3 separate regions of the Homo sapiens genome follow, and all the other regions are linked to region 1. Evidence: fine-mapped expression QTL. A gene starts in region 1. Each other region holds a variant in brackets. All regions are shown on one strand. Distances are between the middles of the regions. Region 1 holds the start of AKR7A2 (aldo-keto reductase family 7 member A2). Region 2 overlaps EMC1 (ER membrane protein complex subunit 1). Region 3 holds the start of AKR7A3 (aldo-keto reductase family 7 member A3).

Region 1 (8,264 bases):
ACCCTGTCTTAAAAGAAAACACACACACACACACACACACACACACACACACACACACAAACCATAAAGAGTTGCCCCACACAGATGAGGCAAGTGGAGAAGAGGAGCAAGGGATCCCCGGGGTTGCATGAATGACAAGGACTCAAGTTTGGGACGATGCAGCCTGTATTCTCCCAGGAGCTCACAGAGTGTGGGGGGGATGCCTAACAGCAGGGAGTCCACAGCCACCTCCCCACCGTCACAATGACAAAGCCAGAATATGGCTGATCGCAGGGGTGGGCAGGGCAGGCCTCTCCCGCTACCCGGGCACCCTGGACAGTGAGTAGAGCAGTCATTGCCTGCGTGACACCTTAGAGGAGGGAGGGAAAGTGAGGCTCGGCTGGGCCATCTCCATCAGTGATCATCACCACAGCTCGGACCGGTGAGCCAAGCATCCTGCATGCACTCATGTTGCATCTTCCCAGCAACTATGAAGTGGGGACCACTGATATCCACAAGGAGCCTGAGCCAGAGTGCGGAAGTGATGTGCCAGCGCCACCCAGCCAGGAAACTACAGAGTCAAACCCAAGACTCAGACCTACACCCCTGCTCATAGCCACCTGCCACACCACCCGCCTCAGGTCCATCTGTCACCAGCGAAGCAGAAGACTTCTGTGGCTCGAGAGAGAGAGAGGGAGAGAGGGAGGGAGAGAGAGAGACAGAGAAGCCTCTGTGGTCTGGCATGACTGCACAGCCAGAAAGTGGGCTTCCTCTTTTTTCCCTGTGCTCAGAGGGGATTTCCTCATCCAGGTGGGGGCTGTCTCTAGCTGCCTTCATTCCCACTTGTGTCAGGAGGCCTGGGCTCCCCAGCTAGTCCCTGGCTGGCCCCACGGAACTGCTGAGGACACAGAGACCAGGGAGCACCGGGAGGGAAAGGAAGTGAGTCAGCACCTCCTCTCAGGAAGCCGTAGACCCTCAGCCCTAATGTGACTCGCTGTGGGCAGAGACCCTGGACCTAAAGGTAAGGGTGCCCCAGGTCACTGTCAGCCCAGCTCACTGGACTACCTCCAGGGCCTGGCACAGGCAGGGAGGCTGAAAGCCTCTTCCCTGTGTCTTCGTGGCCCACCTGGGGGACCATCAGCACAGATGATGTTGGAAGCCTTCACCTGATGCTCCATCTCCGGCCCCTGAAAGGCCACTCCAAATTAACATATAGTCCAGGTGTGGCCGGGCGCAGTGGTTCACACCTGTAATCCCAGCACTTTGGGAGGCCAAGGCAGTTGGATCACTTGAGCTCAGGAGCTGGAGAACAGCCTGGCCAACATGGTGAAACACCATCTCTATCAAAAATACAAAAATTAGCCAGGCGTGGTGGGTGCGTGCCTGTAATCCCAGCTACTCAGGAGGCTGAGGCAGGAGAATCACTTGAACCCAGGAGGCAGAGGTTGCAGTGAGCTGAGATCGCGCCATTGCACTCCAACTGGGTGACAGAGCAAGACTCTCAAAAACAAAACAAAACACAAACAAACAAAAAAAAAACCATATAGTCCAGGTGAGAACTACACGTTTGCAAGGCCAAAGGCATTTCAAATCAAGTCCTCATGTTCTCAGCCACCACTGCCAACTGGGGTGCACCCCCACACCCCCTTGCAGAGTCTGAACACAAGGCTGCAGCTCATCCACTGCCATCCTCACCACTCCCCAGCAAGGTTGGGTATACTGTGCTCATTTGACAGGTGAGGCTGAGCAGCCCTGGAAGTGAATTAACCTGCCTGAGCCTGTCCATAAAATGGGGCTAACGACACTCACTCCTTGGGGCAGCTGCCCTGACTAAATGCACATAAAGCTCTCAGCCCTGTGCCTGACAACACATGGCAGCGACTGTTTTCAGGATGAGAGTCCAGCATCTCAACCACCTTGGGGACTCTCCCTCTCATTTCCCCCTTTCCCCAGGTTAGGGAGGAAATGAAATGGACACATCTCAGCATGTGTGTGTTGGGGGGTTGTCTCGAGGAAGGTACCTTGGTTTATGGCCCCTGCGGCCTCTCTCTCACTTCCCCCTTTCCCTAGGTTAAGGAGGAAATGAAATGGATGCACCCCAGTATGCGTGCGTGTTGGGGAGTTGTCTTGAGGAAGGTACCTTGGTTTATGGATCCAGGATACTGGGTGGGTGTCCCCCTGACCTTGGACAGGACCCATGTGCAATGTGGAGCTCGGGACACTCTGAGACACACCTGATCCCTGAACAGAAAGGCCTGGCTCTGAGGGCCATCCTGCGTAGTTCCTGTCACCTAGAAGCCAGGCATGGGCCCACATCCTGTTCAAACAGCTCTGAGCAAATGGATGTCCAAGGTTGCAATGGAGCTTGACCTCACCTGCAGGGATGGGAAGGACCCCAGAAGCGGTACCCTGGAATCACCCTTGGAGGGTGCATGTTCAAAATTTGGAGTCAGTGCACCTGGGCTGGGGCTTAGAGATTCTGGGTTTAAGAAGCCCTCCAGCGATTCTGCTCCATCTAGTGCACTTTGAGAAAGGTTGGGCTGGAGATGACATCTCCTGCCACACCCAAACTCCTCTCCCTGATCCCAAGCTGAGTCAGGGTGCTTCGGGCACATGATCACAGCCAATCATGTGTCCACCTTTGTCTACAGGATGAAGTCCAAATTACCTGAGGCTAGGCCTCAAGTTACTCCAAGAACTGCCCTCCCAACCTTATCTCCTGCCTCCTGACCCACGTCTTCAGTCATTTCAGGTCTCCAGGCTTCTGCACGTGCCATCTCTTCCCCTAGAAGTGTCCTGCTCCCCTTCAAGGGCCTGGTCATGAGATAAGAAGACTCACTTCTAAATTGCCCTTTCAAAGATGCCCCATGAGAGCTGGCTGGACAGGACCTTCCACCTCCTCCTCTCCCCTTGTCCACACACCTGAAGAACGCTACCACCGTCCTCTGCGACCACTGTCTTTGAAACGTACTCTCCCCACCCTGGGTTGTGCATTTCTTATTCTCCAGGTGTAAACACACCTAGAGGTTCAGCAAATGTTGAGAGACAGTGAGAGAAAGAGAGAGGTAGAGAGAAGGACAGAGTGAAGAAGAGAGGAAACGGGTGAGAAAGGAGAAAGGGTGGAAGAGAGAGAAGAGGAAGGAAAGGAGAAAGGAAGGGGAGAAAGCTGTGAGCTCGAACAGCCCAGGGTTGAGGAGAAAAGCACTCTGGAACAGACCTGCCCGATGCCTACCAGTCTGGAACTCAAGTGATTGAGCTTCGTAGTTCTCATCTGAAAAGTAGGGGAATAATGCAATACCCACCACCTAGGCTGACTGCAGAGTTAAATGAGACAATCCAGGCCAAGCGATTACAAGGGTGCCTGGCACTGGCACTCAACACCAACAGCCCAAAATGACTATTATTTGTTCTCATTGTAGCCCCTCCAGCGTCCGGGCACACAGGCGCCTTCAGTAAGCGTTGATTAGACATGACCTGTGACCCAGGCCCGGGACCCCTCACACTTCCAGACTCAGACTCTCCATTTACACGTTTGGAAACCTACCCTAAGCACGGCGTGGGAGGAGGCAGTGTAGGCCCTCGGTCCCTGCAGACCTGGGGAGATTGTGGAGGGAGGAGCGTCCCAGCTCGGGGCTACCACCCACTCCAGGCCTCGGCGTCCTCGGCCACAGCTCCCTCCTGGTGACTCAGCCCGGCGCGGGCCGCCTGTTTGGAGGGATAATGATAGGACAGCTGCTGGGGCCAGCGCCGCGAGGGCCCCTCGCCCGGCCGGCCCGGGAAAAACGAAGCCATCAGATGCCAAGGGGCCGGTCGGCCGGGGCAGGGCAACTCCTGGCCAGGCCAGCTCGAGAGGCCGCGCTGGTCGCCTTTGAGGTGGGGGGCCACTGGCTGCGGATTCCCGAGGGCCACCCAGTCCCGGCCCGGAGCCTCGTCCCACGATATCGCGCCACAAGGAGGGCGCAGGAGCCGGGACAGTCCAGCGGCCGGAGGAGAGGGCTGGAAGGATGTGGCAGGGAAGCCCAGGAGCCCCGACCCCCAGCCGTGAAGTTTGCCACCTGCCCCCGGTCCGGCTCACCACGTCCAGATCCGCCGCCAGGGCCCAGCTTCTGGGTCAAGGCCCGCCGGGTCAGCTGACCGCGCGCCACCGCCCCCGCGGGAACCGCAGGCCCCGCCCCCACGCCGCGCGCTGGGCTGACCGGGCCTGGAGGCGCCGCTGGGGCCGCGCCTGTTGTCCCCGCCCCCAACTGCCTCCGCGCTCCTCCCCGGCATGGGCGGGGCCCCCGGCTCCCAACGCGCAGGCGCCGCTGCTATGCTGAGTGCCGCGTCTCGCGTAGTCTCCCGCGCCGCCGTCCACTGCGCGCTTCGCTCTCCGCCGCCCGAGGCCCGCGCGCTCGCCATGTCCCGGCCACCGCCACCGCGGGTCGCCTCGGTGCTGGGCACCATGGAGATGGGGCGCCGCATGGACGCGCCCGCCAGCGCCGCGGCCGTGCGCGCCTTTCTGGAGCGCGGCCACACCGAACTGGACACGGCCTTCATGTACAGCGACGGCCAGTCCGAGACCATCCTGGGCGGCCTGGGGCTCGGGCTGGGCGGTGGCGACTGCAGAGGTAACAGTAGCTGCAGATCCTCCCCATGCATCGTGTAGAGCTGAGCCTGTCCCCAGCCGTGCACCACCCCGCTCGGGCCCGGCCGCGGGCAGCACCGACGGATTCGTCCCTCGCTCCCCACCCCAGGTCCACCCCGCAGCTCTGGGAACCCCGGGACAACTAGACAGTGCTTTGCCCTGACTCCTTTCCCCCACTCTCCTTCCCTTGGGAGTTGCAGCGCGAGAGTCTCCCCCCAGCCTGGTCTGACCCATCGCTTCCCACCTCCATTGATGCCCCCGCCTCCAAACCTGCCAGGTGCCCACAACCGGTCCCCACCCAGGCTCTCCCCCTTTTCTCTACCCCTTCGTTACCATCATCACGCATGCACACCCTGGGCACCCTTTTCTCATCCTGGCCTTTTCTTAACCACTAGAATTTGACCTGTGCAGCTGGCAGTACCTCTGCCTCTCTCAGGGAGAACTGTGGCGATGCCGTAAGGCTGGCTGGGAGAGTAGGAGTGTTAGGGAGTGCGGACGGGTCAGGGTGTAGGGACTTTCTATCCACTCTATGCCAGGCTTTGACTTGGGGCCATAGGAGGGAAAGTGATTCCAGCCCTCCACAGGGAGTTCAGAGTCTAATGAGGAAGATTGAAGTAATGATTGCTGGAGAGCCCAGAAGAGAGAGTACTTTAGGGAGCTGCAGGCCGGGGAGAGGCACTAGGGAAGGCTCAGCAAATGCTGGATGGAGCTCAGCCTTAAAGGCTCAATGGTAGGTTGGAGGAGAACAAGAGAAAGGAACATTAGAGTCTGTGCAAAGACTTGGTTTGGAAATGCAATGTGCGTGATGTGTGAAAGGAAGGCCACTGGGCAGGTGGGGCTTGAGTGGAGGATGGAGGGGACTGTCCCTCGTGAGCCTGGTGCCCTTGATAGCCCTTGGGAGGGTGCCTGGCACTCAGTGAGGGCCCAGGGAACGTGGGCTGTTACCCTTACCATGCTTCACCCACTGGACTATCCTGAGGCTGTTGCTCCCCACCCCTGAGGAGAGGTTCTCTCTGGGTCCTCCTGAGTCATAGCGCTTGGGGGGTCGGGGGGAAAAGAGGGCAAATGTGAATCTCAGGCCCACGCTGTTTCTAGTTCACCTGGCTGCATGTTGTTGTTTTTGTTATTATTATTATTTGAGACGGAATCTTGCTCTGTCACCCAGGGTGGAGTGCAATGGCACGATCTCAGCTCACTGCAACCTCTGCCTCAGCCTCCCAAGTAACTGGGATTACAGGTGCACACGGCCACGCCCAGCTAATTTTTGTATTTTTAGTAGAGATGGGGTTTCACCATATTGGCCAGGCTGGTCTTCAACTCCTGACCTCAAGTGATCTGCCCACCTCAGCCTCCCAAAGTGCTGGGATTATAGGTGTAAGCCACCACGCCCGGCCACGTTACATACTATTAATAATGAAGATTTTGTTCCTGAGTTGGTTTTTCTTCTCTAACCCTTCCCCGCTTCCGTCTTTGGGGCCAGGAGCTCACTGAACCAAAGTCCTCAGGCCAGGCCTGAGGCACAGTTCATGCCAAGAATGCCTGGGGCGTTGTGGGGAAATGGAGAAAATCTGGATGAGAAACTGTGGAACTTGTTCTGTCCCATATCCCAACTGATCTCGTGACACCCTTCTGAGCTACTGAGCTGACTTTGCTAAGTATGAAAAGTGCAGAATCCATCCCCCAACCAATCCAGACAGCTGGGGTTCTTTTTTTTTGTTTTGTTTTTTGTTTTTTGACACAGAGTCTCACTCTGTCGCCCAGGCTGGAGTGCAGTAGCACAATCTGGACTCACTGCAACCTCTGCCTCCCAGGTTCAAGTGATTCTCCTGCCTCAGCCTCCTAAGTAGCTGGGGTTACAGGCACGTGCCACCACGCCTGGCTAATTTTTGTATTTTTAGTAGAGACAGAGTTTCACCATGTTGGCCAAGGCTGGTCTCGAACTCCTGACCTCAGGTGATCCACCCACTTCAGCCTCCGAAAGTGCTGGGATTACAGGCGTGAGCTACCTTTCCTGGCCCAGCTGGGGTTCTTTTTTAATTTTTATTTTTGTAGAGGGAGGGTCTTGCTACATTGTCCAGGATTATCTCAAACTCTTGGGCTCAAGTAATTCTCCCTACTCAGCCTCCCAAAGTACTCCCAAACTAGGTTTACAGACTTGAGCCACTACATCTGGACCAACAGCTGGGGTTCTTTATAGGGGAAAGAATAGTGCAGAATTAACTCATTTCCAAGCTGCTCGGATGCAGAACACTGTTGTCATAGCGATGTGTCCCTACAGTGTTTGGATATATGCTCATGCTTCTGTGAGTCAGGAAGGGGAGGGGAGAATTATAATTACATTCTGCTCAGTTTGCCTTCTAAGCTCTCAAGTTGATCTCTACCACTGGGCCACATTTATGTGGCTGCTTCGCTTTCCTAAACTCTTCCAGGCCTGCCCCCTTGACTTCTTTCTCTATACTGCAGCCAAGTGTGAACACAGGTGACCGGTTCACACCCTGACAAAATCTGGAATGATCAAGTTCAGATTCAGTGGGATGGTATTTAAGAACTTTTGGGATGAGGTCTGTCCCTGTCTCTTGTCCTACGTCCCACTGCTCCTTGCTCTAGAATTTATGCTCTTATAACTTAGACTTGAAGGTTTGGAGCCTCACATAGTGTTTTTTTGCCTCTTTGACTTTGCATGGGTTCCCATGCTCTGGAGTGTACTTCCTGCTCTTCCTTGTTGGCTGGGACTCTGGGAGTGATCCCCTAGAGAAAGCCTTCCCTGGAGTCTCCAAGTTGGCTTCATGCATCTCATCTGGGCTCCTTGGCATCGTGTGCCTTTCCCTCCTGTGCTTACCATATTGTACCATCATCCTCTAGGGCTCCAGGAGGGCAGAGATCCATTGTGTTCAGTTCATCTCTGCATACTCAGTCTCTAGTGCAAGGCCTGGCACAGCCAGCAGGTTGGTGACTAATGATAGTTATTCTAATAGGTGAACATTGAGAACTCACATATATGACATTATTTAATCCCCAGGACCTCCCAATGAGGACAGTTTGATTATTATCACCCCATTTTACAGATCATACAATTGAGGCCAAGAGAATATTAGTAATTTAGCCAGGGTTACATGGTTAGCAAATGGCTCTAATAGGTCACTTAACCATTCCATTCTCTCTCCAAGTGAAAATTGCCACCAAGGCCAACCCTTGGGATGGAAAATCACTAAAGCCTGACAGTGTCCGGTCCCAGCTGGAGACGTCATTGAAGAGGCTGCAGTGTCCCCAAGTGGACCTCTTCTACCTACACGCACCTGACCACGGCACCCCGGTGGAAGAGACGCTGCATGCCTGCCAGCGGCTGCACCAGGAGGTGAGGGGGCCCTCCGAGCTCCAAAGGTGGGCTCCTGCTCCTTTCTTTATCCTGATCCTACTCATGAGAGCAGAGGCACCAGGGCAGTCCCAGGGTGGGGCAGGGAATAGCCCCATTCCCTGGGGCCCCACCCTGGCCTCCCCTTCCTGGTCTGGGCTACACTGCGTTCTGACTGGAGCCTCACCCATGCAGGGCAAGTTCGTGGAGCTTGGCCTCTCCAACTATGCTAGCTGGGAAGTGGCCGAGATCTGTACCCTCTGCAAGAGCAATGGCTGGATCCTGCCCACTGTGTACCAGGTGAGGGCC
Region 2 (8,000 bases), 70 kb after region 1:
ACTCATTTTCTGTAATAAGGAGGCATTACTTTTATATCCAGATAAAACAACAGTATTTTATTTACTTATTTATTTGAGACAGAGGCCCACTCTGTCGCCCAGGATGGAGTTCAGTGACACGATCTTGGATCACTGCAACCTCTGCTTCCTGAGTTCAAGCGATTCTTTTGCCTCAGCCTCCCGAGTAGTTGGGATGACAGGCACGTGCCACCACGCCCAGCTAATTTTTGCATTTTTAGTAGAGATGGGTTCTCACCAAGTTGGCCAGCTGGTCTCGAACTCCTGATCTTAAATGATCCACCCACCTTGGCCTCCCAAAGTGCTGGGATTATAGGCGTGAGCCACTGCGCCTGGCCTGTTTATTTTTTTGAGACAGAGTCTTGTCAGGTTGGAGTGCAATGGTGTGATCTCGGCTCACTGCAGCCTCGACCTCCTGGGCTCAAGCGATCCTAATCGAGAAAATTATTAGCCTCACATGGTAGGCTACCAAGTACAAAGGAGGTGCTTGCTCTGTGCTGTTAAGAAGTGCTGTGATCTCAGTCGGGCGTGGTGACTCACGCCTGTAATCCCAACACTTTGGAAGGCCGAGGCGGGTGGGTCAGTTGAGGTCAGGAGTTCGAGACCAGCCTGGCCAACATGGTGAAACCCCATGTCTACTAAAAATACAAAAAAATTAGCCGGGCGTGGTGGCAGGTGCCTGTAATCCCAGCTACTCGGGAGGCTGAGATAGGAGAATCGCTTGAACCTGGGAGGTGGAGGTTGCAGTGAGCTGAGATTGCACCATTGCACTCCAGCCTGGGGGACAAGAGTGAGACTTCGTCTCAAAAAAAAAAAAAAGAAAGGTAAGGTGCCCTTTTGGGTGTCACTTATCTGAAGGTAAATATGTGCTTCCATTTAGAAGGAAGAGTTAGTATTATCTATTAGGAGCTAATTTTCTTCTCTTACTCTCTTTGCATCTGACTACATTGAATGGAAATCTTGCTTTTGGTCAGAGCTCTTCACTAACAAACACTTCTTTTTTTTGAGATGGAGTTTTGCTCTTGTTGCCCAGGCTGAAGTGCAATGGTGCGATCTCAGCTCACTGCAACCTCCGCCTCCCGGGTTCCAGCAATTCTCCTGCCTCAGCCTCCCGAGTAGCTGGGATTACAGGCATGCGCCACCATGCCCAGCTAATTTTGTATTTTTCATAGAGACAGACGGGGTTTCTCCATGTTGATCAGGTTGGTCTCGAACTCCTGACCTCAGGTGATCTGCCTGCCTCGGCCTCCCAAAGTGTTGGGATTACAGGTGTGAGCCACTGCGCCCAGCTAACAAACACGTCTTATGTGTCCTAAAATGAATGTGATGGTGATAGCCCTGTGATTTTTTTTCCGGAGCATTTTGTGGAATGGTGATTTTAGCTCCTTATGGTCCCCTGTACTCTTTTTTTCTCAGGAGACAGCAATATGTTGGGAAGGTCAAGTTTGCCTCCTTGGAATTTTCCCCTGGATCCAAGAAGTTGGTTGTAGCCACAGAGAAGAATGTGATTGCAGCATTAAATTCCCGAACTGGGGAGATCTGTGAGTGAACTGAGAACTGTGTCTACTGGCTGCCTCAGGGATGAAAGACTTACCATTGCCAACTCTGCCTGGCTGATTCCTGAATAAGGAACATGTTGGCCAAAAGATGCCTCTCCTAGTGGATTCTGATACTTTTTTTTTTTCAGTCTTACCATCTTTGAATATTTGTATGTTCCTATAACTGACCTTTGCGGTTTGTTCTCTCAGCTTGAATCCTGAGTGTCCTTAAATAAGATATTGCTGCAAGCCCAGGCGGGAGGATCACTTGAGCTCAGGAGTTCGAGACCAGCCTGGGGATCACAGTGAGGCCCCATGTCTAAAATTAAAAAAATCAGGCATGGTGGCGTGTGCCTAGATTCCCAGCTACTTGGGAGACTGAGGTGGGAGGATTGCTTGAGCCCAGCAGGTTGAGGCTGCAGTGAGCTGTGATCATGCCAGTTCACTCCAGCCTGGGCAATAGAGCAACACCTTGTCTCAAAAAAAAAGATGCTGCTGCAAAAAACACATTATTCTACTTTGCAGTAAACTCTCAGATACCCTCACTTAATTACCTACACTGGCCGGATGTTTTTAGGCACTAAAATAAGGGAAATAGAATTTATGATCACTATTTTTCTTGTGAATTGGATGGATTTTATTAATCTTATTGTTGTTTGTTTATATGTTTGATGGGGTGGTAGTGGGGCCTGGACAGTAGTGGCCCCTCTTAACCCCTTCTACCCTCATTACCCCGTGAATGGGACTGGATCACTGCCAGTTAGCTATACTCCTTCACTCCCTCGAGATAAAATTGGACATTGCTGTGCAAATGAAGAGCTCTTCATTTATTTCTTAGTCTTCTGGGTTGCCACCTTTTGTTCATAGTAATGTCTAACTTTCATGTCTCTCAGTGTGGCGCCATGTTGACAAGGGCACGGCAGAAGGGGCTGTGGATGCCATGCTGCTGCACGGACAGGGTAAGCAGAGTCCTCCCGTGTCTCCATTGTGCGGCCAGCTCCCTGTCCCATTCCTTGGCTCCTTGATCTGTACAGGGTCTGGTAGGGAAAGGAGACTGGGGACTCCTGACAGTGAAGGACAGGTACCTGTTTAACATGTATTTGCATCCAGAAATCAGAGGTGAGGCCACTGCTCACAGTGGGACCCTAGGAAGCGACAGAGCAAGTGGGAAATGACTTCACCACGATCTTTTCTTTTCCAGATGTGATCACTGTGTCCAATGGAGGCCGAATCATGCGTTCCTGGGAGACTAACATCGGGGGCCTGAACTGGGAGATAACCCTGGACAGTGGCAGGTAGGGGAGAAACTGGATTTTATCTTGACTGAGTTAAAGGCTTCACCGGAACACAGATCTGCATAGACAGCAACTCTGGGCTTTTGGCTTTTTCCCAGGGACCACTGAAGAGCCAGCCATTGACATTGAGTACCCATTGTGGATATGCTTGCTCAGCCAACATGTATTGAGCGCCTGTTAGATGCAGAGTTTCTAGGTGCAATGTTTGCGCTTGTGCTTGAATGCTGTTCCTAATTTCACTGTGATTCGTGAGTTTTGCAATGTTCCAGATATAAGAACATAATATAAAACTTCCACTGTTTAGTTTTGTTTAAAGAACAGCCTGACCTATTGTTAACATCTTTGCTAAAGTTGTTTATTTTTATTTATTGAGTTTTTTGAGACATAGTTTCACTCTGTCACCCAGGCTAGAGTGCAGTGGTGTGATCTTGGCTCACTGCAACCTTCACCTCCCAGGTTCAAGCAGTTCTCGTGCCTCAGCCTCTCCAGTAGCTGGGATTATAGGCATGTGAACCACGCCTGGCTAATTTTTGTATTATTAGTAGAGACGGGGTTTCACCATGTTGGCCAGGCTGGTCTCGAACTCCTGACCCCGTGATCCTCCCACCTCAGCCTCTCAAAGTGTTGGGATTACAGGCATGAGCCACCGGGCCTGGCCCCTAAAGTTGTTCAAATGATAGGGTCATTTGTATTAGCTTATACATTTTCTGATAGTAATTCATTTGGTAAACACGTGCTGAGCCCCAGGCGATGAGAACACATGGGACTGTGAGACAGTTGCTGTCATTGAGGATTCCGCTGTCCATTGGGAGGCAGGCAGGTAGCACAGTAATGACAGCACTGTCTCATGGATATGTGGCAGAGGGTAGGTCCAGTTGCTGTGAAGTCCCAGGGGAAGGAGGGAACAGCCCTTAGGAGATACAGATGGTTTCAGGGAAGCAAGTAGTGTGGCCAAATGGTTGCAAGTGCAGAATCTCAAGTTGACTAACAAGAGGCAGAGCCAGGGTTAGGATCCAGCTGTGTTTGACCCCAAAGCCTGTTTTCTTACCCACTAAGCAACAGTGGGTACTGTTCTGGACTGTCTCTCCCAGCCTGAGGCTCTGCAGGTGTGGGCTGCTCTCAACCTGTACTTGTGTTCAGTTTCCAGGCACTTGGGCTGGTTGGCCTGCAGGAGTCTGTAAGGTACATCGCAGTCCTGAAGAAGACTACACTTGCCCTCCATCACCTCTCCAGTGGGCACCTCAAGTGGGTGGAACATCTCCCAGAAAGGTAAGGCTGCCTGCTCACAGGCAATAGCTGCCTCGTTCTACTCTCTAGGAGCTCCTCTTTCTCCTCGAGGGACCCGAAGCATTTGCTTTAACCCAGGCCTGTCTCTTGTTGGTGTTCCATGGAGTGTGTTGCACTCAGAATATCTTGAAGGCTGTGAGTATGGGTGAAACTCCGGAGTATGCCTGGAGTTTCCTTTGCACTGAGGAGAACACTCTCAAACTGGGGTGCTAGGGCGAGCCATGCTACGGGAGCCACTCACTCGCTCATGGTTATGGTACTTTGTGCCTTCTGACTTCTAGTTCAAGTTCTAGTTCTAGTTCTAGTTCTGACTGAGCCTTTCGTTCATATTAAGAGTTAGAACAACTCAAGAAGACCCAGGGTAGGCTGAGTGAGGTGTGAAATGGTTTCTCGAGGTCCTGCTGGTAGAAAGCATCGAAATTGGGAAGGAACAAGAGAGAAGGAACAAGATAAAAGGATCTACTTAGACACCCTGTGGCCATTTTCAAAGTTTAGAGCAGGACTCAAAACTTCAAATTCTGGCCTGGCATGGTGTCTCACGCCTGTAATCCCTGCACTTTGGGAGCCTGAGGTGGGTAGATCACTTGAGCTCAGGAGTTCAAGACCAGCCTGGGCAACCCCATCTCTACAAAAAGTACAAAAAAT[T/C]AGCCAGGCATGGTGGTGCGTGCTTGTGATCCCAGCTACTTGGGAGGCTGAGGTGGGAGGATCACCTGAGCCTCGGGAGGTAGAGGCTGCAGTGAGCCGTGATCGCACCACTGCACTGCAGCCTGGGTGACAGAGTGAGACGCTGTCTAAAAAAAAACACAACAAAGAAAATGCTATGAGGCGGGTTATGAAATATCCATGAGCAACACTGGCTGGATGGGAGCTGCAGTGCTCCTGGCCTGCCTGGAGGGGGCAGCCTTACCCACCTGATTGGTGCTCTGTATTTAGGCCTAGTGTTGCCACATCTTCTAACCGTAGGAAAATTTAGAAATCTGATTGTGAAGTATAATATCTTCTAAATGTTGACAACTAATTCAAATTAAGAACAACAACAACAAAAGCCCCCAAACTGTGTGAGCCAAACAAAACCTATTTGGGAATTACTAGTTTGTGACATCTGGCTGAGGCCTGGCAGCCCCTGAGGATAATCCTGTCCTGGGTTGAAAGCTGACGCTGCGGTTTCTTCTTCCCTCTCTTAGTGACAGCATCCACTACCAGATGGTGTATTCTTACGGCTCTGGGGTGGTGTGGGCCCTCGGAGTTGTTCCCTTCAGCCATGTGAACATTGTCAAGTTTAATGTGGAAGATGGAGAGATTGTTCAGCAGGTACAGGAGGGTGACAGGAGCCTGTGAATAAGGTGGGGTTGGGGGAGACTTGATAGATTTCTTTGTACTGGGGAACAGGGAACTTGGCTGGGCAGATGCAAAAGCTACTTATGCTCCCTCATTCTGGTCACTTGCCAGCTGCCTTCCCATTAGGCCTCTATTTAAAGTACTCATATTTGCATGTGTTATCTTCTGGGGTGGCTAAAAAATTACATAGATCTAGTCTCTGCCTGTAAGTATCTTACAGTGCTGTGAAATCACAGTAGGACACCACATATGGCAAATATAGTAAAGAAGTGCTGATTCTGAAGTGCCAGGTATTTAAAATTATCGGATATATTTTTCCAGTGACCAGAAAGAAAATCCTGATATTTTTTCCAACTTTGAAGGCTCTCAGGAGGTTGGAGGGTGGGGTTTCAGGGGACAGGAAGAACTCCTATACAACCAACCATGAAGAACCTTTGAGCTTAGGACCCCCAGTGGGATGCTGGCAGCAATATTGCTGTTGGGCTGAGAGGGAAATGTAAAAATCTTTCACGAGCTTCCTGTTAACGATGACTTTTCTGTAGGTTAGGGTTTCAACTCCGTGGCTGCAGCACCTGTCTGGAGCCTGTGGTGTGGTGGATGAGGCTGTCCTGGTGTGTCCTGACCCGAGCTCACGTTCCCTCCAAACTTTGGCTCTGGAGACGGAATGGGAGTTGAGACAGATCCCACTGCAGGTGAGAGGCTGCCACTGCTTCTTCTGGCCTGAGGCATTTCCTGCGGGGAGTAGAAAGTTTGGCATGATTCCCCTGGAGGGTCTTTCTCCTAGACTCTTCCTGAGCAGTGGAAGCCATTCAGGCCTCTGGCTGAACTGGTGTAAGAGGAAATCAGTCACTTTCCTCTTTGGGGAACTTGAACTGGAGCATTTGGAGCCACCTGCCATGGCCCAGTTACTTCCCCCGGCAAAGTAGGGCAGAGGTTGTGAGCCTGGGATGGGTCAGGGAGTCGTCAGCTGTTAGCCATAATCCTCCTCCTTCTTGCCTTCCAGTCTCTCGACTTAGAATTTGGAAGTGGATTCCAACCCCGGGTCCTGCCTACCCAGCCCAACCCAGTGGACGCTTCCCGGGCCCAGTTCTTCCTGCACTTGTCCCCAAGCCACTATGCTCTGCTGCAGTACCATTATGGAACGCTGAGTTTGCTTAAAAACTTCCCACAGGTAACTGCAGGCAACATGGTTTGCTAGGATTCAGGAGATCTCTCCAAGACATGGATGCTAGAAGGCAGTGCTTTTGAATCTGGAAACGTTTGCTCTTAGGCCCAAGATTGATGACACCTTCCCGTAAGTGGTTTGAGAGGGGGTAGGTAGCCTTATCATAGAAATGGTGTATTTCCTCCTGAGTATTACAAAGGATCTTTAGAGCAAAACTAGTGCCTTCCTTAGTCCAAAGGAAATATGGGGACATAAATGAGAGCTTCCCCATAGATAGTAAGAACAAGCAGCATGGGATTTAAGATTGACCTGTGCCTGCGTTGGAGGTAGGGAGAGTTCTGTTTTCAGCTGTAGATGCAACTGAGGCCTCCCTCTGCTCTTAAATGCCTGACCATTCTGCTCCAAAGTGGGGAGCACTTTCAACTCTAAGGCCAAGGGCCTTCCCTGGAGAGGTGACCCTCTGTAAGGCAGCTGGCTAGTACTGGTCCCATTTAGGAGCTGATGCCTTGCTTTTCCCCCAGACTGCCCTAGTGAGCTTTGCCACCACTGGGGAGAAGACGGTGGCTGCAGTCATGGCCTGTCGGAATGAAGTGGTGAGTATTGAGAACAACAGTCAGCACTTGGGATTTTCCTTCCTGGTCTCCACTAGGAACCCTGAAAATCAGAAGTCTGGGCACATTGACCTGGTCAGTTTGAACCCAGCGGGCAGGAGGCTGTTGAGAAGTGAGGTCTTGCCTCAACTATAGAGCTTTCTGCACACCCCATTTCTCCCCAGGAACGAGACCCTAATGTGATGACCTTACTTTCATATGGGGCTATTAAGGGTTGAATAGGCTTTGTGGGCAGGGGTGAGAAATGAGCTTTGTCTTCTCTCAAGTGCTAAGAAGACAAAAACAAAAGCTTCATTTCAGTGACTGGGAAGTGACCCTTTGGCTGAATTTTCTCCTGTCCTTCTCTTTCTCATAGCAGAAAAGTAGCAGTTCTGAAGATGGGTCAATGGGGAGCTTTTCGGAGAAGTCTAGTTCAAAGGTATGGTGTGGCACTGGGCAGTATGCCAGACCTAGAGACGCAGGAGGCCACCAAAGAGAGTTGGGGGAAGAGCTTTGGTTAGGAGCAGGTCCTAGAGTTCCCAGCTTCAAATGAGGTTTCCTAAGTACTGTAAATTAAATGATGTTTCTCTTAATCTCATTTTACCGGGAGATTAGGAGGTAGAATCCCTAGAGTCTGTTTCTAGCCACTTTCTCCTCTGGGCCTCAGCGTCCCCATTTCTTTTGGGATCCTGGCTGGCACAGTTGAGTAGTACTCTGTGCAGTTACCCTGTAGCAGAGGCATGAGCCCCTGGCTGGAGGCATAGGTTCC
Region 3 (8,264 bases), 20 kb after region 1:
GTAAGGAGCAGGCAACGTGGCGCCAGCCAGGTAGAGAAGCCATTTGTGGCCAGGTGCGGTGGCACACGCCTATAATCCCAACACTTTGGGAGGCTGAGGCGGGCAGATCACCTGAGGTCAGAAGTTCAAGACCAGCCTGGCCAACACGTTGAAATGGTGTCTCTACTAAAAATACAAAAATTAGCTGGGTGTAGTGGCAGGCGTCTGTAATCCCAGCTACTCAGGAGGCTGAGGCAGGAGAATCTGTTGAACTTGGGAGGTGGAGGTTGCAGTGAGCCGAGATCACACCACTGCACTCCAGCCTGGGAAATAGGAGTGAACCTCCATCTCAAAAAAAAAAAAAAAAAAAAAAAAAAAAAAATCCATTTGCAAAATAGATTAGGGTGGGGCGGGGAGCTTCTTCCTGTACTATGTAAACATCGCACCTGTTTCAACCAATCTTTGAGCCCTATGTAAATCAGACACTGCCTCCTCATGCCTGTCCTTGTGCATGCTGCTGCAGGCTGGAAGACCCACTCAGGTGCCCCTCTCTCTGCAGGAGAGAGAGCTATTCTCTTTTTCTTTTGCCTATTAAACCTCTGCTCTTAACCTCACTTCACATGTGTTCGTGTCCTTGACTTCCTTGGCATGACGCAGTGAACCTTGGGTATTACCCCAGATGAACGACACTGCTTCATTCCTTGGCATGAGGCAATGATCCTTGGGTCTTACCCCAGATGAACGACACTGCTTCATTTTGGGGCCCCAGGTGGGATCAAGGTATCATCATCAGAACAGTGAGGACAGGAGTGGACCTCAACCATGTCCTTTCATTTCAAGGTTCTTGGCCTCCATTTTAAAATCAAATCAAATACTGGGCCCCCTTCAGCTATTTAAAAATGATTAGTGTGGCTGGCAGCCTTACAAGACTTGGGGGACAGGCTTGCTGGGGAGAACATTCTGAAGCAGTGGGAATTTTTACAGTTCAAGGAAGTAATCCTGTTAGGCAAGATCAGGAAATACCGTAGTAACTGAGGTAGAGCTCAAGGCAATGCCATTTTTGTGATTTTCTAGGAACAGTGGGTCTTCCCCTCCTCTCCCCATAGTGAGGTCTCTCTCTGCCCTTGGTCTGGAGAGCACATGGCATTTAAAGGTCAACGGCCCTACCCAGTGGCATAGGAATCCTCTCCATGAGGCACATTGTCAGCCCTTTGCCAAAACACTCTGGCTTCCCAATTCTCCTCCCTTTTTGCACCCCTCTGCTGGACACCAGGCTTTATGCTACTTCCATAAATGGGAAAACTCTGTCTTCAACAATAAGGAGGAAAATGTCCTCCAAAACCAAATTTTAGTCTCAATACTGTCCCATCAGCAGGAAAATAGCCATTTGGTTCCTATGTTTTTTTTAAGGCACCTATTCTGCTTGTAATTAAAATAGTACTTAAATAGTAAGGGTAATTTAAGTCCGGAAGTTAACTGGAACCATTCTCTAAGGGTACTTTAGCACGAGTCATAATAGCAGGATATAGAGCTCAAACCAGCACACTTCCTCCATTATGGAGGGAAATACAACAGTTGCCTAAATGCAACTGTTACATAGTCTCTCCCAAGATCCATTTTTCAGGGAGCCACACAGGTCACACAAGTCTTGGAAGTCAAAAGGAAATCATAAGTGCAGGACTAGAGTCACATGGGTAAGCATGACTAACCCCAATCACTTAGTTCCTCTGGTTCCATGGCTGGGGGTCACACCTGCAACCATGGGAGGCATGTTTAACAAGATGCTGGGACCCAGGAACCAAGGAGGGAAAACAGTAGGGGTGGCGCCCTCACTGTCTTCCCCTTCCCCTCCTCTGGAGTGCGTTCTGAAGCACTGGGACTCCTTTGACTCTGAGATTTGGAAGAAAAAACAGCTCATTTTCTTTTGCACAAGAGCATGGCCTTCTTACTAGACCTTTGCAAGCATTGCACAATGGACTCAGCTCTTTCAGCAGTCATATCAGACAGGCCCAAAGGGAATGATTCCCCAAAACTAGAGAAACAAACTCCCAGGAACCCCTCAAATGAAACTTCCAGATGCCCTGGCCCTTCCTCCCTCCCTTTCACATTGTCAGCTTCTCCAATTCTACCACCCAAACCCCCAGACTTTTCTATGGTATTTTTCCTTCCTTCATTCATGATTTAAAATGGCTCCTATCTCTTCTTCTATAATGTTCCTCCAAACTGGGAGAAGTTAATTTCCTCAAACCTTAAAATGCTTGGCTTAGGGTTGAGCTCGGGGAACAGAACCCAGAAGCCTGACATGCTGTCAAAAGGGTAAAAATTTTTATTTTTATTTTTATTTATTTATTTTTTTTGAGACAGAGTCTCGCTCTGTTGTCCAGGCTGGAATGCAGTGGTGCAATCTCAACTCACTGCAGCCTCTGCCTCCCTGGTTCAAGTGATTCTCCTGCCTCAGCCTCCTGAGTAGCTGGGACTACAGGCACGTGCCACCACACCCAGCTTGCTCCATCAACACTGAATATTAGTGATTGAGTTGTTGCCACTACTGGCACTCAGAAAATTATCCAGCTGTGGTGGTGTGCACCTGTAGTCCCAGCTACTCCAGAGGCTGAAGTAGGAGGATCTCTTGAGCTCAGGAGGAGGTCAAGGCTGCAGTGAGCCAAGACCATGCCACTGCACTACAGCCTGGGTGACAGAGCAAGACCCTGTCCCCCACCCCCCCCCCCAAAAAAAAACAAACAACAACAACAAAGAAATATATTGAAATAACTGGTATCTTCAATACAATGTTGAATAAGAGTGGACATCATTGGTTCCCAATCTTAGGGCAAAACTTTCTGATTTCATCATTAAGTATATTAGCTGTAGGTGTTTTGTGTATGCCCTTTAAAAATTATTTTATTTTTTGTAGAGAAGGGTCTTGCTATGTTGCCCACACTGGTCTTGAACTCCTAGGCTCAAGCAATCCGCCCATCTTGTCCTCCCAAAGTCTGGGATTATAGGCATGAGCTACTGCTCCTGGCCTATGGATGCCCTTTATCAGTTTCAGGAATTCCCTTCTATTCCTAATTGGCTGAGAGGTTTATTTTCCTTTCATGAATAGGTATTAAATTTTGTCAAATGCTTTTTCTGCATCTATTGAGATGGTGATATGGGTTTTGTCTTATAGCCTGTTAGTATAGTAAATTATATTGATTGATTTTAAAATATTAAGCCAACCTTGTATTCCTGGGATGAAACTAACTTGGTCATGGTGCATTATTGTTTGTATTTACTACTGTATTCATTTTGCTAAATTTTAAAAGGATTTTTGAAAAAAATAAAGAGGATTTTGTGTCTAGATCCATGAAGGATATGTGTGTAGTTTCTTTTCTTGTAACATCTTTGTGTCATTTGGTATCTGGTAATGCTAGCTTCAAGATGAGTTGGTAAGTGACCTCTCCTCTTCTATATACTAGAAACATTTGTCCAGAATTGATGTTGTTTCTTCCTTAAGTGTCCAATGAAGCCATGTAGACCTGGAGTTTTCTTTGTGGAAATATTTTTTTTTATCAAGAATTCAATATCTGGGCTAGACGAGATGGCTCACACTTGTAATTCCAGCACTTTGGGAGGGTGAGGCAGGAAGAATACTTGAACCCAGGAGTTTGAAACCAGCCTGAGCAATATAGCGAGACCCTGTCTCTACAAAAATATTTTTACAAAATTAGCCAGGTGTATTGAGGTGCACCTGTAGTCCCAGCTACTTGGGAGGCTTGGGCAGAAGGATCGCTTGAGCCCAGGACGTTGAGGCTGCAGTGAGCTATGATTGCACCATTGAACTCAGAAGACAAAGCAAGACCCTGTCTTAAGAAAAAAAAAAAATTCAGGTTGTTGTTTTTTTTATTTTTTTAGACGGGGCCTGGCTCTGTCGCCCAGGCTGGAGTGCAGTGGTATGATCTTGGCTCACTGGAACCTCTGCCTCCTGGGTTCAAACGTTTCTCCTTGCCTCAGCCTTCCAAGTAACTGATTATAGGCACACACCACCACACCCAGCTAATTTTTGGATTTTTAGTGGAGATGGGGTCTCAGCATGTTGACCAGGCTGGTCTCCAATTCCTGACCTCAAGTGATCTGCCTGCCTCGGCCTCCCAAAGTGCTGGGATTACAGGCATGAGCCACTGCGCCCGGCTGTCTCATTTTTCCTTACTCATTTTCCAAACACATTCCTTACTCATTTTCCAAACATAAACTTTGGTAGTTTGTGTTTTTCAAGGAAATTGTCCATTTCATCTAACTTACTAAATGTATTCACATAAAGGTTTTAATAATCTACCCTATTGTCATTTAAAATGTCATTTAATGTCATTTAATGACATTTAAATATCACTTAAAATGATAAATTTGTATAATTTGTAGTGGTGTCTCTTCTGCTCTTTCTGGTGTGGTTAATCTGTGTATTCTCTCTTTTATTCCTGATCAGTCTAGCCAGAGGTTTATCAACTTTAGCGATGTGTTTATAGAACTACTTCTGGTTTTACTGACTTTTGCTGATGTTTTTGTTTTATATTTCATTTATTTTGGCTTTTTTTTTTCTTTGAGATGGAGTCTTGCTCTGTTTCCCAGGCTGGCGTGCAGAGGAGTGATCTTGGCTCACTGCAGCTTCTGCCTCCCGGGTTCAAACGATTCTCCCACATCAGCCTATTTTGGCTATTATTTTTATTATTTCCTTTCTTCTGCTAATTTTGGTTTTACTTGACTCTTCCTTTTGTGGTTTCTTAAAGTACAAGCCTCGGCCGGTGCAGTGGCTCACACCTGTAATCCCAGCACTTTGGGAGGCTGAGG[C/T]GAGAGGATCCCTTGAAGCCAGGAGTTCAAGACCAGCCTGGCAAACATGGTGAGACCCCTTCTCTACTAAAAATACAAAAATTAGCCGGGCATGGTGGTGCATGCCTGTAATTCCAACTACTCAGGAAACTGGGACATGAGAATTGATTGAACCCAGGAGGCTGAGGTTGCAGGGAGCTGAGATTGCACCACTGCTCTCCAGCCTGTGTGACAGAGTGAGACTGTGTCTCAAAAAAAAAAAAAAAAAAAAGTAAATGCTTACATTATTGATCTGAAATATTTCTTCTTTTGTAATATGTCAAAGTGGTGCTATAAATTTCCCTCATAGCACTACTGTGGCTGCATCTCAGAAAATTTGATATGTCCTGTTTTTACTTTCATTCAGTTCAAAATATGATCTAATTTTCCTTGTGATTACATATTTGACCCATGGGTTATTTAATTTCTAAATATGTGGGGATTTTCCAGATATCATTCCATTATTATTTTCTATTTTTCCTTTTTCTTCTATTTGTTAACTTATTTACTTATTTTCAGTTCCCTCTCAGGCTCTAAATTCTGTTATTCTTTTCTTTTCTTTTCTTTTTTTCTTTCTTTCTTTTTTTTTTTTTTTTGAGGTAGAGTCTTTCTCTGTCACCCAGGCTGGAGTGCAGTGGTGCGATCTTGGCTCACTGCAACCTCCGCCTCCCAGGTTTAAGCAATTCTCCTGCCTCAGCCTCCTGAGTAGCTGGGATTACAGGCACACACCACAATGCTCGGCTAATTTTTTTGTATTTTTAGTAGAGATGGGGTTTCACCATATTGGACAGGCTGGTCTTGAACTTCTGACCTCAAGTGATCTGCCCACCTTGGCCTCCCAAAGTGCTGGGATTAAAGGTGTGAGCCACCGCACCCAGCCTGTGTTATTATTTTCTAGTTTAATTCCATCGTGTTCAGAGATGTACTTTGTATGATTGGAATCCTTTCAAATTTATTTATTTATTTATTTATTTATTTTTAATATGGAGTCTCACTCTGTTGCCCAAGCTAGAGTGCAATGGCCTGATCTCGGCTTACTGCACTCTCCACCAACCAGGTTTAAGTGATTCTCCTGCCTCAGCCTCCTGAGTAGCTGAGATTACAGGGGCACGCCACCACGCCTAGCTAATTTTTGTATTTTTAGTGGAGACGGGGTTTCACTGTGTTGGCCAGGCTGGTCTCAAACTCCTGACCTCAGTTAATCCACATGCCTTGGCCTCCCAAAGTGCTGGGATTACAGGCGTGAACCACCGCTCCCAGCCTCTTTTACATTTATTAAGACTTGTTTTATGCCTCCAAATATGGTATATCTTGGTGGATGGGCACTTGAAAAGAATGCATATCCTGCTGTTGTTGGATATTCTATTCATGTTGTTTATGTGGAATTGGTTCATAGCATTGAGTCTTGTATACCTTTACGGAGTTTCCGTAAATTATGACTGATAACTGTTCTACAACTATTGAGAATGGTGTGTTGAAATCTCCAATTATAATTTTGTATTTATCTACTTGTTCTTTAGTTCCATTATTGTTTTTCATGTATTTTGATGATCTATGCTTAGGTGCATATATATTTAGAATTATATCTTCTTTATTAATTGACCTCTTTGTCATTATGGTATGTCCCTCTTTGTCTTTGGTAGTTGTTGTTGTTGTTGCTGTTTTGAGACAGGGTCTCAATCTGCAGCTTCGACCTCCCAGGCGTAGATGATTCTCCCACCTCTGCCTCCCAAGTAACTGGGACCACAGGTGCATGCTACCACAATTTGATAATTTTTAAAATTTTGTTGTAGCGATAAGATCTCCCTGTGTTGCCCAGGCTAGTCTCAAACTCCTGGACTTAAGCAATCCTCCCTTCTCAGGCTCCCAAAGTGCTAACATTACAGGTGTGGGCTAGTATGTCACCCACTGTGTGGGCCAGTATTCTTTGTTTTGCAATCTACTTTGTCTGATATTCACTTAGCCATTCCAACTTCTTAAAATTTAGTTTTGTCAGTGTATGTCTTTTCCCATCTTTTTGCTCTTAAACTATCTCTGCTTTTATATTTGAATAGCTTTCTGGTATTTACCATATAGTTTGGTTTTGCTTTTTTATCCATTCTAACAATCACTGCCTTTTACTTGTGAGCATTTACATCATTTATATTTATGTAATTATTGATATGATTGGGTTTAAATCAATTTTGCTATTGGTTTTTCATTTGTTCCATCTGTCTATTGGTCTTTTTTTTTCTTTTGTATTTGGAGACAGATTTGCCCTCTGTCACCCAGGGTGGAGTGCAGTAGAGCTATCACAGCTCACTGCCGCTGGGCACTGGTCCATTTTTCTATCTTTTTTTTTTTCTTTTGAGACAGGGCCTCCCTATGTTGCCCAGGCTGGGTTCAAACTCCTGGGCTCAAGTGATCCTCCTGCCTTGATCTCTCAAAGTGTTGGCATTACAGGCGTTAAGTCACCAGAGCCAGTCAGTTTTTTTTCACTTAGGTACAGAATTCAATGCCAACAGTTCTTTTCTTTCAACACTTTAACCATGTCACTCCATGGGGACGCTGTCTTGAGCCTTTGGTAAGCCTCATTCTCCAGGACCACACGGCAGGCGCGACAGCCCTAGGTCCACCCCACCCCGTAAGCGCTCCCTCCGGGAGGAGACAGAAACCCAGGACAGCTCCGGGGCAAGGCCGAGGAAGGAGGGACGACGGGGCAGGGAGGCCCGAAGAGTCCCCGCCTTTTGGGATAGTCGCCACCCTTGGACCCCCTCACCCTTGGGGACGTTGAGGAGTGTTAAAATCTCCAAGACGCGAGTCACCGGTACGAAGCCACAGCCATTTCGCTGCTTGCTCGGTGCAAGTGCAGAAGGTCCTAGTAGCCGAGCGTGGAGTCGAGCTCGTGGGCGGCGTCGGGCACCTTCGGCCGCGCCCTCAGCTGCACCCGCCGGTGGGCGGGGCCCGAGCCCGTCTCTAAAGCCACGAGGCCGCCCGCTCCGAGCCTGGTGCTTCCGACCGCTGCGCGCGGCTCCTGGGCTGTCACAGTCTCCCGTTGCCGCCGTCATGTCCCGGCAGCTGTCGCGGGCCCGGCCAGCCACGGTGCTGGGCGCCATGGAGATGGGGCGCCGCATGGACGCGCCCACCAGCGCCGCAGTCACGCGCGCCTTCCTGGAGCGCGGCCACACCGAGATAGACACGGCCTTCGTGTACAGCGAGGGCCAGTCCGAGACCATCCTTGGCGGCCTGGGGCTCCGGCTGGGCGGCAGCGACTGCAGAGGTAACAGTGGCCCCTGATCCTCCCCCTGCACGGTGCAGAGCTGAGCCTGTCCACAGCCGTGTACCGCCCCGCTCTCCCTGGCCCCGGGGCAGCACCCAAAGTTTTGTCCCCCCCACCGCCCCCACCCCTGTTCACCTCGCAGCCTTGGGAACACCAGGCTCCTTAGGCACGTCTAGCTCCG

The links. PIP is the estimated chance that this variant, and not a neighbour inherited with it, causes the effect.
Region 2: its variant is fine-mapped to the expression of AKR7A2 in monocytes after Pam3CSK4 (Quach 2016, PIP 0.94).
Region 3: its variant is fine-mapped to the expression of AKR7A2 in spleen (GTEx, PIP above 0.99). The same link has a PIP of 0.9 or more in sun-exposed skin and tibial nerve.

Annotation. Positions count from the first base shown.
Region 1 is chr1:19,308,149-19,316,412 of GRCh38, reverse strand. AKR7A2 (aldo-keto reductase family 7 member A2) reads left to right here and starts at 4,269. Exons shown (of 7, transcript NM_003689.4): 1 at 4,269-4,586; 2 at 7,771-7,958; 3 at 8,151-8,255. The coding sequence starts at 4,289. SLC66A1 (solute carrier family 66 member 1) reads right to left here and starts at 4,087. Exons shown (of 8, transcript NM_001040125.2): 1 at 3,524-4,087. RefSeq lists enhancers at 384-553, 465-964, 4,179-4,678 and silencers at 3,778-3,867, 3,948-4,587.
Region 2 is chr1:19,238,465-19,246,464 of GRCh38, reverse strand. EMC1 (ER membrane protein complex subunit 1) reads left to right here. Exons shown (of 23, transcript NM_015047.3): 2 at 1,435-1,559; 3 at 2,450-2,515; 4 at 2,758-2,851; 5 at 3,992-4,120; 6 at 5,323-5,449; 7 at 6,019-6,168; 8 at 6,480-6,647; 9 at 7,163-7,234; 10 at 7,608-7,670. It overlaps EMC1-AS1 (EMC1 antisense RNA 1), which reads right to left. Exons shown (of 2, transcript NR_135114.1): 2 at 5,761-6,208. Among named protein-coding and RNA genes, the nearest start is that of EMC1, 9.1 kb to the left of the region's middle. The variant T/C (reference allele first, on the strand shown) is at 4,784.
Region 3 is chr1:19,288,315-19,296,578 of GRCh38, reverse strand. It overlaps AKR7A3 (aldo-keto reductase family 7 member A3), which reads left to right and starts at 7,809. Exons shown (of 7, transcript NM_012067.3): 1 at 7,809-8,083. The coding sequence starts at 7,870. It overlaps LOC124903867 (a long non-coding RNA gene), which reads right to left. Exons shown (of 3, transcript XR_007065521.1): 1 at 8,219-8,264. LOC100506730 (a long non-coding RNA gene) reads left to right here and starts at 843. Exons shown (of 1, transcript NR_037847.1): 1 at 843-3,332. RefSeq lists enhancers at 6,932-7,753, 7,754-8,264. The variant C/T (reference allele first, on the strand shown) is at 4,807.